Linked DNA regions of Homo sapiens. The protein of the gene in region 1 purifies or fractionates together with the protein of each later gene. This does not show direct contact. Each region holds a gene or a part of one and is shown on either strand. Other genes may lie near its edges.

The links.
Region 2: the proteins of IL17RD (region 1) and KLRG2 fractionate together in Homo sapiens (co-fractionation; one large-scale study listed by BioGRID). This does not show direct contact.
Region 3: the proteins of IL17RD (region 1) and MAP3K7 purify together in Homo sapiens (affinity purification with western blotting; one study listed by BioGRID). This does not show direct contact.

The regions. Positions count from the first base shown.
Region 1 is NC_000003.12:57,092,340-57,095,992, reverse strand, and holds part of IL17RD (interleukin-17 receptor D isoform a precursor), read left to right. Parts: 3' UTR 1-3,653. UniProt on the Homo sapiens protein: Feedback inhibitor of fibroblast growth factor mediated Ras-MAPK signaling and ERK activation. Regulates the nuclear ERK signaling pathway by spatially blocking nuclear translocation of activated ERK without inhibiting cytoplasmic phosphorylation of ERK.
Region 2 is NC_000007.14:139,456,050-139,459,702, reverse strand, and holds part of KLRG2 (killer cell lectin-like receptor subfamily G member 2), read left to right. Parts: intron 1-3,653.
Region 3 is NC_000006.12:90,545,482-90,549,134, forward strand, and holds part of MAP3K7 (mitogen-activated protein kinase kinase kinase 7), read right to left. Parts: intron 2,697-3,653; coding exon 2,566-2,696; intron 1,907-2,565; coding exon 1,777-1,906; intron 1-1,776. UniProt on the Homo sapiens protein: Serine/threonine kinase which acts as an essential component of the MAP kinase signal transduction pathway. Plays an important role in the cascades of cellular responses evoked by changes in the environment.

The DNA.
Region 1 (3,653 bases):
TTGTGAAAAAAGGCACTTTTAACATCATAGCCACAGAAATCAAGTGCCAGTCTATCTGGAATCCATGTTGTATTGCAGATAATGTTCTCATTTATTTTTGATGTAGAATTTACATTGCCATGGGTGTTAAATAAGCTTTGAGTCAAAAGTCAAGAAAGTGACTGAATATACAGTCACCTTTTATGAAATGAGTCTCTGTGTTACTGGGTGGCATGACTGATTGAGGTGAAGCTCACGGGGCCAGGCTGACCGTCTTGACCGTTCCACTTGAGATAGGTTGGTCATCGTGCAGAAGGCCCCAGGACCTCAGCACACACAGCCTCCTCTTGGTCTGAGTAGGCATCATGTGGGGGCCAGATCTGCCTGCTGTTTCCATGGGTTACATTTACTGTGCTGTATCTCAGATGTTGGTGTCTGGAAGTTTATTCTTAAGAGACTGCTACCCAGCTGGTCTGTATTATTGGAAGTTGCAGTTCGTGCTTTGGTTGGCCTTCTGGTCTAAAGCTGTGTCCTGAATATTAGGGATCACAATTCACTGAAATACAGCAGTGTGTGGAGGTGATGGCCAGTTAATCTGCTGAACTGGTTTTGACTAATGACAAACCTCTTTTTAAGATGGTAGAATGGAGGTGATAGTCACAAAAGTAAATGTTCCATTTTTATGAATGACTTTCTACAGAGTTTCTATTTCTAAAGAAAAAACAATTGTTCACATCCCATCTGATGATTAGCATGTGTGTAATGAATGCTGTCTTGGTCTCCCCTGTGGAAACCCTTCTCCCTGTGCCTTAGAGCAGGTGTGTACATCTCTCACTACCTTTCTCATGGGTGCTGTTAGATTTTGGCACCCGTTTTCTCAGCATTCAGCCCAGGGAATGTGGTTTTCACTTCTTCGTCAGATAAGACCAACATGAAGGGGTATGTTGAGAAACATCCTGAGGCAAGGTGGGAGGTGGGATGGGGCAGGACTTTCCCTTCCAAGCACATGCATGGCAGGTGGGGAAAGGGGGGCTTGCACCCCTGCTGGAAAGAAAAGGTTTGTGTATATTTCTGATGCAAATGTCATACTCACTGCTCTGTAAAGGCAGCTGGCAGCTTTTTGGGAAAAGAACGTGCTCGTCTGTTCTCTGGCATCAAGTTTCTTGCAGCTGCTCTGAGGGAGAGACAGTGAGCTGCAAGACTGCCTCCCCATAACAACAGGCAACTCAGAGAAGAGTCATTTTATGTTGTTCCTATGGAATCTGGAATGAGTGCAGAGCTCCTACCCACACATGACTGCCCCGCCATTTCATCCTAGGCATTCTGTGAAGGAGATTGGTTAGTCCAAACTTGCTAACATACGAAAATTCACTTGGAACATGATGAGAGATTTCTTATTGAGGCCAAGAGATGTTTCCTGTCCCAGAGGAACCATTAGGAGTCGCTTTTAGGGTATTCAGCTTTGTTCATGAAATAAGGCATCTCTGAGAAAGTGGCCCCAGGGAGAGAATGGAGGACTGGGAGGAGAAGCATTAACTGAGCTCCAAGGGTGTGTGGGCAGAGAGCTTGCTATGTGAACTCACTCCTTAAGAAAATGGAAGAGAAAAAGAGAGTGCTAGTTAAAAAATCGGGATGTTTTAGTTTGGATTTAGGGTTTTGATACTTATGTTGAAATACTAATGTTTCTGATCAATAAAATCAAACTCTTAATATACCGAGTAATGAAACCATAGTGTGATTGCCTCAGAATAAATTGAGAAGTCCAACTTCCTAGTTTTGTTTAATTAGTTTCACTTTTTCTACTCTCCCCAGTATGCTAGAAATGGGAATCGTTGCCCTGCAGATTACGGCAAAACATCTGTTTTAAGCAAAGCTGCATTTTTTGACTCAGAAATTGTCCCAGACGGTGGATATAAGATGAAATTCAGAAAAACGTTCTGCCAAGTCACAGGCTTTTAGATATTATGGAAACAAGAAATGGAAAACAGGATGATCTCCATGAGAGGCCTTGATCCTGAGAGTAAAAGGCTTGTGTAGATAGGTTAGACAACGTCCTCTAGAAAAGAGACCAGGGATAAGTCCAGGTTTCCAGGAAAACCAAGAAGCCTGCGGGTAGCTGAAGGTAGAGTGCTAGTTGTTCATCTTAACTTACCAATGAGCTACAGAAAGGACTTAGCATCTGATGTCATCAGCTTTGCCAGGAGAGTGATCAAGGAGGTTAAAGCTCAGGTAAAGGTGTGCCTTCTCAGAGATTGGCTACAAGCAACAGAGACCACCTCAACAGAGACCACCTCAACAGACTCAGCCCAGCCATACAAGGTGCCAAAGCTCCTCCAGAGGGCTGTCTTGGGCCTTTGAGGCAATTGATCTCCAGAAAGAGTCAGAAGTCATTCCAGTCCAGGCCCAGGTATTCAGATGGTGACCCAGCCAGATAATAGTATCTTGAGCAAATAATAGTATCTTGAGTGCAAATAAGCAGGAAGACTGTCCTTCAAAAAATGTGGGGTTACATGATTTTCAGAGCCTTTTTTTCAGAGTTGAGCATCTTTTCTTTTAAAAGAAATAAGGGGCAAGAGGACCAATTTTATTCCTTGAGGAAAAATGACACACCCTTCTCCCAAAAGAAAGAAAACTCTCTGGCCCCCCAACTTCAACACTAATTTGGCTCCCTGAAGAAGAGAGAAAATATTATTTCTGTCTTTATTGAAGAGAAATGGGCAATGCCAATGTGAAGGTTACTAGTCTTTTTTATTTTCTATTGGTGAAGACTACTACTGCTCTTATTTAGCAGATCTTATACCTTCAGTGGTCACCAGTATAGCAGGTGAGGTATAAGGAAAACAGCAGTGTGATGATAAATGGTAATTAATATACTTTGTCTGTGTCAGCAATAGGGAATGGTGGGGACTGTGGCAAACTGAAGCGCCCCTGTTCCACCCACAGTGGGTAATTTTCCAGTCGACTGTGGCCATGAAGTACTTCCTGATCTTCCCATTTTTCAAGAAAAGCTGACAATCTGGATTTTTATATGAAAAATTCTGATTTTAAAAAATATTGGCAACTAAGTTAAAATTCAAGTGAATTTAGACCCAGCAGAAGACATGGATGGACCTGATTTGGTCCACTGACTACCAGTTTGTTAACCTGTGCTTTATAAGATTTGAAGGAAAGGCATTCATGGTAATTACAGACGGTGCCACCAGAAAATGCTCTTGCTAAATGCAGCCAGTAGTTAGATTGCTTCTTTCTCCAGTCTCCCCCGCAAAGAAATTTGACGTGATTCTGAATGCACTGGACATGTCTTGATTGCGTCTTTACATTTCACAGTGTCTTAAAAGAAAGGCAAGCCAGTTGTTAATTTCAGAATCAGATTTATGCTCTCTCAATTTAAAAAATGCTGGGAACAATTTCATTTTTTTTTTTTTGAGATGGAGTCTTGCTCTGTTGCCCAGGCTGGAGTGCAGTGGCGTGATCTCGGCTCACTGCAAGCTCCACCTCCCGGGTTCACGCCATTCTCCTGCCTCAGCCTCCTGAGTAGCTGGGACTACAGGCGCCCACCACCACGCCTGGCTAATTTTTTTGTATTTTTAGTAGAGACGGGGTTTCACTGTGTTAGCCAGGATGATCTCGATCTCCTGACCTGGTGATCCGCTTGCCTCGGCCTCCCAAAGTGC
Region 2 (3,653 bases), on another chromosome or scaffold:
TTTATTTTCTAAATGTTCCACAAATAATATATGCTGTGAATGGGGGAATATGCCAGGGCACCAGTAGCCTGTGAGGGCAAGAGGAGCTCAGTAGGGATCAGTTTCTGCTCAGCGCCTGGGCTGGGCCCTGAGGTGTTGGCGTTGAGATGGGAATGGGCTGTGCAAAGAAAGCACCCCAGGCTCCTGTACCAAACGACTCAGACTGGTTGTATCTGCAAATTGAAGGCCTGTAGGAATGTAGGTGGGACCAAAGGTGGTCTCTAGAGTGCCTAGAGTTAGGGCCAGGAGCCAAGCAGGGCGGGGATCATATTGTTGCAGGGACATAGTTCATCCCATTACTTACTTATGGAATCCCATCGCTTAAGACTGATGAACATAGCATTTTGTCCTGAGACAGACAGATTGAGCACAGCAAATGCCAACAGGAAGCCAGTAAAACGGGCCTCACATCAGACAGGTTCACCTCAGATGAGCTTAGAACTCCTTGTTGCCAATGGGGGGAGGTGGGTTTAACTATCCAAATTGGAAACAGAACCTGAGATAAAGAATTTAACAAAAAAATGCATACAGCATCAATCATTTGAAACATAAGTAAATCTGCAGAAAACATATCATAGTCTGGGTAAACCCCTTCCCTGCAAAAAGACCAACGCTAAGATTCAAGATCTAGGCAGTTAAAATCTGGAATATAATGATTGTGGAACTCTGGAATTTTCCTGAGTTCTGGACAAGGACCGGAAGCTCCTGCAGGTGCTGAGGCAGGGTGGGGAGGACAGGACACACACGCAGAAGCAGCGCGCACAAACCCCAGGAACGCACCAGGGCCAGGGTGCCCAGAGGTACAGGATAGACGTGGCTCATCTTCCCAGAAGCCTGTTTTGCTCAGGATTAGTGAAAAGTAGGAAGTTGTAAGTGCTCACCATTAGTTTAATAACAACTTTGCTTTGCAGAGTGGAGGAGGGAGGAAGCTACCTTAACAGCACACACTGAACTCGAGCCCGATGCTAATTTCAAAAAGATTAAACCATTGAATACATTTACATCCTAGGATTAAGAAAAGTAATTTGAAACATTTTAATATTAAAACAGACATGGATGAAGATAGAGAGTAGAATGGCTGTTGCCAGTGCAGCGGGGGATGGGGAGTTGTTTAATGAGGACAGCTTCAGTTTGGGGAGGTGAAAAAGTTCAGGAGATGGATGGTGATGATGGTTTTACAACAATGTGGATATACTTCATGCCCTTGAACTGTACACTTATCATGGTTAAAATGGTAAATTTTATGTCATTAAACTTTTTCTTTCTTTCTTTCTTTTTTTTTTTGAGACAGGATCTCTTGCTCTCTCACCCAGGCTGGAGTGCAGTGGTGCAATCATGGCTCAGTGCAGCCTCGACCTCCCGGGGTCAAGCCATCCTTCGGCCTCAGCCTCCTGAGTAGCTGGGAGTACAGGAGCGTGCCACCACACCTGGTTAATATTTGTATTTTTTGTAGAGACAGGGTCTCACTATGTTACCCAGGCTGGTCTCAAACTCCTGAGCTTGAGTGATCTGCCCTCCTCAGCCTCCCACAGTTCTAAGACCACAGCTGTGAGCAGCCATGCCTGGCCGTGAATCTTTTATCACAATTTTTAAAAAAGAAATGTATGAAGGCATAGGAAACAATTTTCTATAATTTTAAGACGTAAAATATGAGATTTTCAGTCCATTCTGCTCAGGATCACATTCCCTCTCCCCATATTAGTGGAAAAGTTGGAGAATCCACAGTTAAGGAGGCCTCAGGATCTTTTGCACAGAGCAGTCCTTTTAGCCATAAATTACTTAGTAGTTCCCAGAGTTTATTTATAACTCTGAACAATGCCTTCCCTACACCACCATTTTTGCTAACAATGAGATCAGGAGTCTCAAACGCAAGGAAAAGAAGAATGGAATGGAGTGGGTGGGTCTAGGCGGGGCTGGGGCTCGGGGGAGGCCTTCAGCTCCCGTCACCAGGAGGCCCAGAGGGGAAGGGTGAGAGAGGCAGATAGCTTGGGGCTCTGACAGAAGGACAGGGTCCTCTTGAGGTTGCTGTAAGCATCAAAGGGGCTCATGTGTGTAGGAGGCAGGTCACAGGCTTTGCCCATCACATGTCAGACGCGAGAGGACATGGGATGAGTGTGTACTAGGTGGCCGTGGCTTTATATGTTAGTATCTCAAGCCTCATCACAAGCATCTTCGTTTTACAGACGACCACACAGCGGCTCTGAAAGGTTGGGTAACTTGTCTAAGGTCATGTGGCTCACAAGTCATGGAGCCAGAATTTGCATATGGGGTAGCCTGGCTCCATCTCAGCCCCGGAAGAGGCACTGAGCCCTGGTGTGCCTTCCCAAACAGGCAGCTGAGTGCTCCCAGGAAGACGGTGTTGGGCCGCTCAGCCCTCTGACTCACACCTCAGAGCAGCCTGGGGCCCTCCCATCCTCTCCAAGTTTCCCTGCCCAGCCCCACCCTGGGCCCCAGTGTGTCCCCGAAGCACCAGCCAAGGAACAGCTGCCCAGTGTACATTCTCTGTTCCGTCCACTCACCACTCTCCATTTTCCTATGCACTCTGGTCTTTAGGATTCAAGAAGGGTAAGATTAGCAACCTTCAGCCTGGGAAGTTGCCCCTGACTTCTCTCTGGGCTGTTAACTGACTGGTGCTAACCTTGAGGGGCAGAAGATGGGTTTTCCGTGACACTTCTGGGATACACAGTGGCCTGATGGCCTGGTCTCACTGTGGCTCTGCTGATTTTTGGCAGTGAGCGCGGGGAGGCAGTTTCACTGAGTTGACCTACTGTGTACTGGGTTATCATAGTGCGATGCTGAGTAAGACAAGCTCCTGGCCCGCACCAGGTTCACCAACTAATACAGGAAAGTGACAAGGAGGCAAGCCATTAGAAGGCAGCACATGAGTGGTGGCACGCACCAGCAGTCCCAGCTACTTCGGAGGCTGAGGTGGGAGCATCGCTTGAGCCCAGAGGTTCAAGGCCAGCCTGGACAACGTAGTGAGATCCTGTCTCTTAAAAAATAAAAAAGAGAGGCTGGGTGCAGTGGCTTATACCTGTAATCCTAGCACTTTGGGAGGCCGAGGTGGGTGAATCATCTGAGGTCAGGAGTTCAAGACCAGCCTGGCCAACATGGTGAAACCCCATCTCTACTAAATTGGGCGTCATGGCAGGTGCCTGTAATCCCAGCTACTTGGGAGGCTGAGACAGGAGAATTCCTTGAACACGGGAGACGGTGGTTGCAGTAAGCCGAGATTGTGCCACTGCACTCCAGCCTAGGTGGCTGAGCAAGACTCCGTCTCAAAAATAAAAATTAAAAAAATAAAAATAAAAAAGAGACAGCTCTATTCTGTGAAAGTTGTGGAAACCAAGGGGAGGGAGGAGCACCTATTTCACCTTGGAGAGGGTCAGCCCAGTGTCCGTTAAAAAAGCCACCTTTAAATCAGTTCTGAAGGATGGAGGAGGTGGCAGCAACAGGACAATCATCACTCTAATTCCCAGGGCTTGTCTTTGTTGACTTAAACCATTTTCTTAGGGAAGAAGAACTGAGCATATGCGAAATTCATTTATACCGCTCTGCTCCTAACCTGCCTCAGTGTGAATATGTGCTTCTTGACATTGTTGTGAGTGATATGT
Region 3 (3,653 bases), on another chromosome or scaffold:
ATTAGTATGTGGCAGATCTATCCTGAACAACATCCCTGAAGTGAAAAGGGTTCCTCAAAGCATGAGGGTATGTCCCGGTGAGTAGGGTTCATCTGACACTACAGTGAGACAACCCTGCTCCAAAGAAATACTTGTGACTCATGGAGACTCATGGGCTTGTCAGTGGCTGGTGACTTCTACTCAACTTGATAGTTTCTGAAGACCCATCTGTGGCAGACACAGCTATCTTCTGCCAGTTTCCACTCTTCCCTTCTGTTTTAGCAATAGTACTCTGATTTTATTTAGGACAGAAAAGTCATCAGATAAAAGAGGGCAGATCTCCTCTTCCCTTGGAGCTACGTGTAGCCATTCGACCATGTTACTTTGACCAATGATGTGTGGATGTTGTTAAGAGAGGCATCTGGGAATGTTCCTTCAAAGAACTTGGATGTCTATTTGCCCTGCCCCCATGTCTTCCTTCCTATTGCCTGGAATGTAGAAGTGATGAAATGGAACTTCAACAGCCATTTTGGAGCACAGGATAACTTTGAGAATGGAAGCTATACAGTAGGGATTACAGCACAGAAATAGGAGACCAGTTACTTCAAGATCACAGAGCCCACTACCTCCAGACTTGTTTATATGTGAAAAATAATGCTTATGTGTTATAGACACTGTTATTTCGGATATTCTGTTATATCTAATGGATTCTAATAGTAGCTGATAAAATCAATGATCATGATTAGTTGAAGACAAGTATAGTATGATGGTCCATCTTGACAACTTCTTTCTGAAAAGAGCTCCACACACAATGAGAATATTCTATTTAGAAAAAAACCAAATAAGTGAAAAAAAGACCTAAAAAATTGGTTAGCTAAGTTAAAAAAGATGCAAATACACATGAATATATACATTTATACACATACATAGTTAAAAGATGGGGTAAATACACAAAAATGTTAAGTGTTTATCTCTGAGTGGGGTAATTATGTAAGTTTTTTTGGCTTGTTTACATTTCCACATTTTCCACAACAGAAACGTGTTTACTTTTAAAATCAGCTCCCCCTGATCCCTGGAAAGAATCAGCAAAAAACCAAAAACGTCCAAATTAAACCAGCATTACTAAAATGAAACCTGGTCACAGAATTAGGTTGTCAGTTTACTTAAGTAACAAAACATGTAATTGTTTTTGTGCTGACCAGTTCTTCCATGATTAATAATTTTAAGAACTGAACAATGGAATTTAAATGCTAGCTTTTTCAAGATCTAATAAAATTATGATATTTTATTTTACAATTAAAAAAATTAACCACAACCAGCTTAGCTATTATTTTGTCACTGGAATGAAGAAGCAGATAGAAGGTCAAATCATACATGGATCTGGAATACATTTTTCTGTTAAATTTGAAACAAAATATTTGCTATTATTTGAGTTCAGCACAAAAATCTAGTAGTATCACTGAAAATCCCCAAAATATTCTGGTTTTGGCAGAATTTCAATTTCTCACTTAGACTTTCAACTCATGTTTGAGCAGAAAGAATTACATTTGATAAAATCTGTAAATGAGGAAGGCATACTTTCTCATCCAAATAATTTTACAAGTCATACCTTCCTTATTTGGAATTTGAGATAAATGCATAAACTATTGCTAGTAACTTAGAAAAATATATTGTAAACCTACTTCCTATTTAAAAAAAAATATAAGACACACACAAAAAACCTTTGACAACTGAAACTACCATGGCCAAAAAGGCTTATATACATTTTCACTCTTCAGACTTGTAGTTCCTTTTTACCTGTGGTTGCGGCGATCCTAGCTTCTATTTCAGACATGTCAGCACTCATCCTCTTGCCCTCAGAGGTTGGGGGCAAGCTCTCCACACTGCTCCCACGGGAGGCTCCCAAGCTTAAACGTCCAGATTCACTCTGTTAAAATTACAGGTCAATCTGAATTACTGAAGTTCTTTAGATTTAGCAATCTTAGGCAACCTAAAAGGAGGAAGATGGCAAATGGGATTCTGATAGATCCTGTTCTGCTCTGAAAGGAGAGGGAAGTTTGTACGAGAGGGAGCTACAGGGGTAAGGGAAAGCAAGCTGCAGATACTGTCTTTATGAAAAGGCAGTCACTAGAACTGGGAGCTAAAAGCCCCAATTATTCGTTAACCTAAATGCCTCAGGCAAAATGAATAAACTCACTCCTTGAAATATTTTTAAAAATCAACAATGGCAAAAATATAATAAATCTGAACAGCATGAAATGATAGACTTAGAACAACTCCTCTAACTGGGCAGCGCAGCCAAAATATACCCATTTTACATTTTTAACCATCAACCATTACATTTAGGGATTATTATAGATAGGGATTTAGAATTGGCAAAGGTAGCAATCATTAGAAGGAAAAACCATTTGGTAATAAATGGTAGGAGAATCTCATTACGTGTCTCTATTTGTAAGCTCTTTTGCATGTTTCAGGAAGAAAATTCAGGATTTATAAAATAGAAGATGGTAAATAATTAATTTCAGTTAGTATAATATTGTGACTACTGGTAAGGTTACCAGTTTTACTTGTAATAACATAACAAACCTGTTGCTTTGCCTGATTTTTCAACAATTTTGATTCTAAGCGCTTAATAGTATCATTTGTGGCAGGAACTTGCTCCATATTAGTGTCACTTTTGTTACTCGTATTTGTAGAAGCAATGTCCATGAATGAGCCTAGGAAAAGCAGAAACATTTATGACTAATGGCTGGAAATAATACAAATGCTTCACTTGGTATTATGTAACTTACATTCTTTTATAAACTAGCCAGGCAGGAACAGAAATAAAATAAGACTTTTCAAGCTAATGAAGATATCCAAACAAACCCATTTTAAGAGAAACTTAAGGATAGCACAAAAAAGGAACCAAGATGCCTAAATAGTCTTCTAATAGTCAAGAATAACTTAAGGTTTTTAACCTGAGCTAGTAGAAGAACTGAGGGCTATTAATTGAGATGCGGAAAGACTAAAGGAAGAGTGAGTTTGAAGGAAGTATCAGGAACTCAGTTTGGAAAATATTAAGTTTGAGTTTCTAGTAGATGTAAAGGAAATAGTTGGATATATGAGTATAGAGTTCAGGTATAAGATGGAAAACATTATGAGCCAACAGATGGTATATAAGGCCATAATAATGAATGAGGTTACCAAGGAAATGAGTGCAGACAGATAAGTGAAGAAGCCAAATGAGCAGGCCCTGGGCACTCCAACATTTCTAGGTTGGGGAGATGAGGAATAACCAGCAAAGAAAACTGAGAACAGACGGCCAGAGATGTAAGATGGAATCTAGGCTAGTATGGTATCTCGGAGGCCAACTGAAGAAAGTGCTGTCTGTAAGAAGGAGAAAGTAATGAATTAGGTCAAGTGCTACTGAGAGTCAAGATGAGAAATGAAAATGATTCCTTAAATGTAGTGATGTAGAGATAACTAGTGACCTTGACAAGAACAATTCTGAAGTACTGGCATAATACGTCTGAATGGAGTCAGCTCAAGAAAGAAGGGGAAAAGAGAAGCTAGTGAATGCAAATACAGACTACGTATGTTTTAGGAATGATCCAGTAGAAAGCTAAAACTGATGATGCAAGAGACAGGGGAGAATTGCTCAGAGGAGCAGATGGGATATAATGCACAGGCAG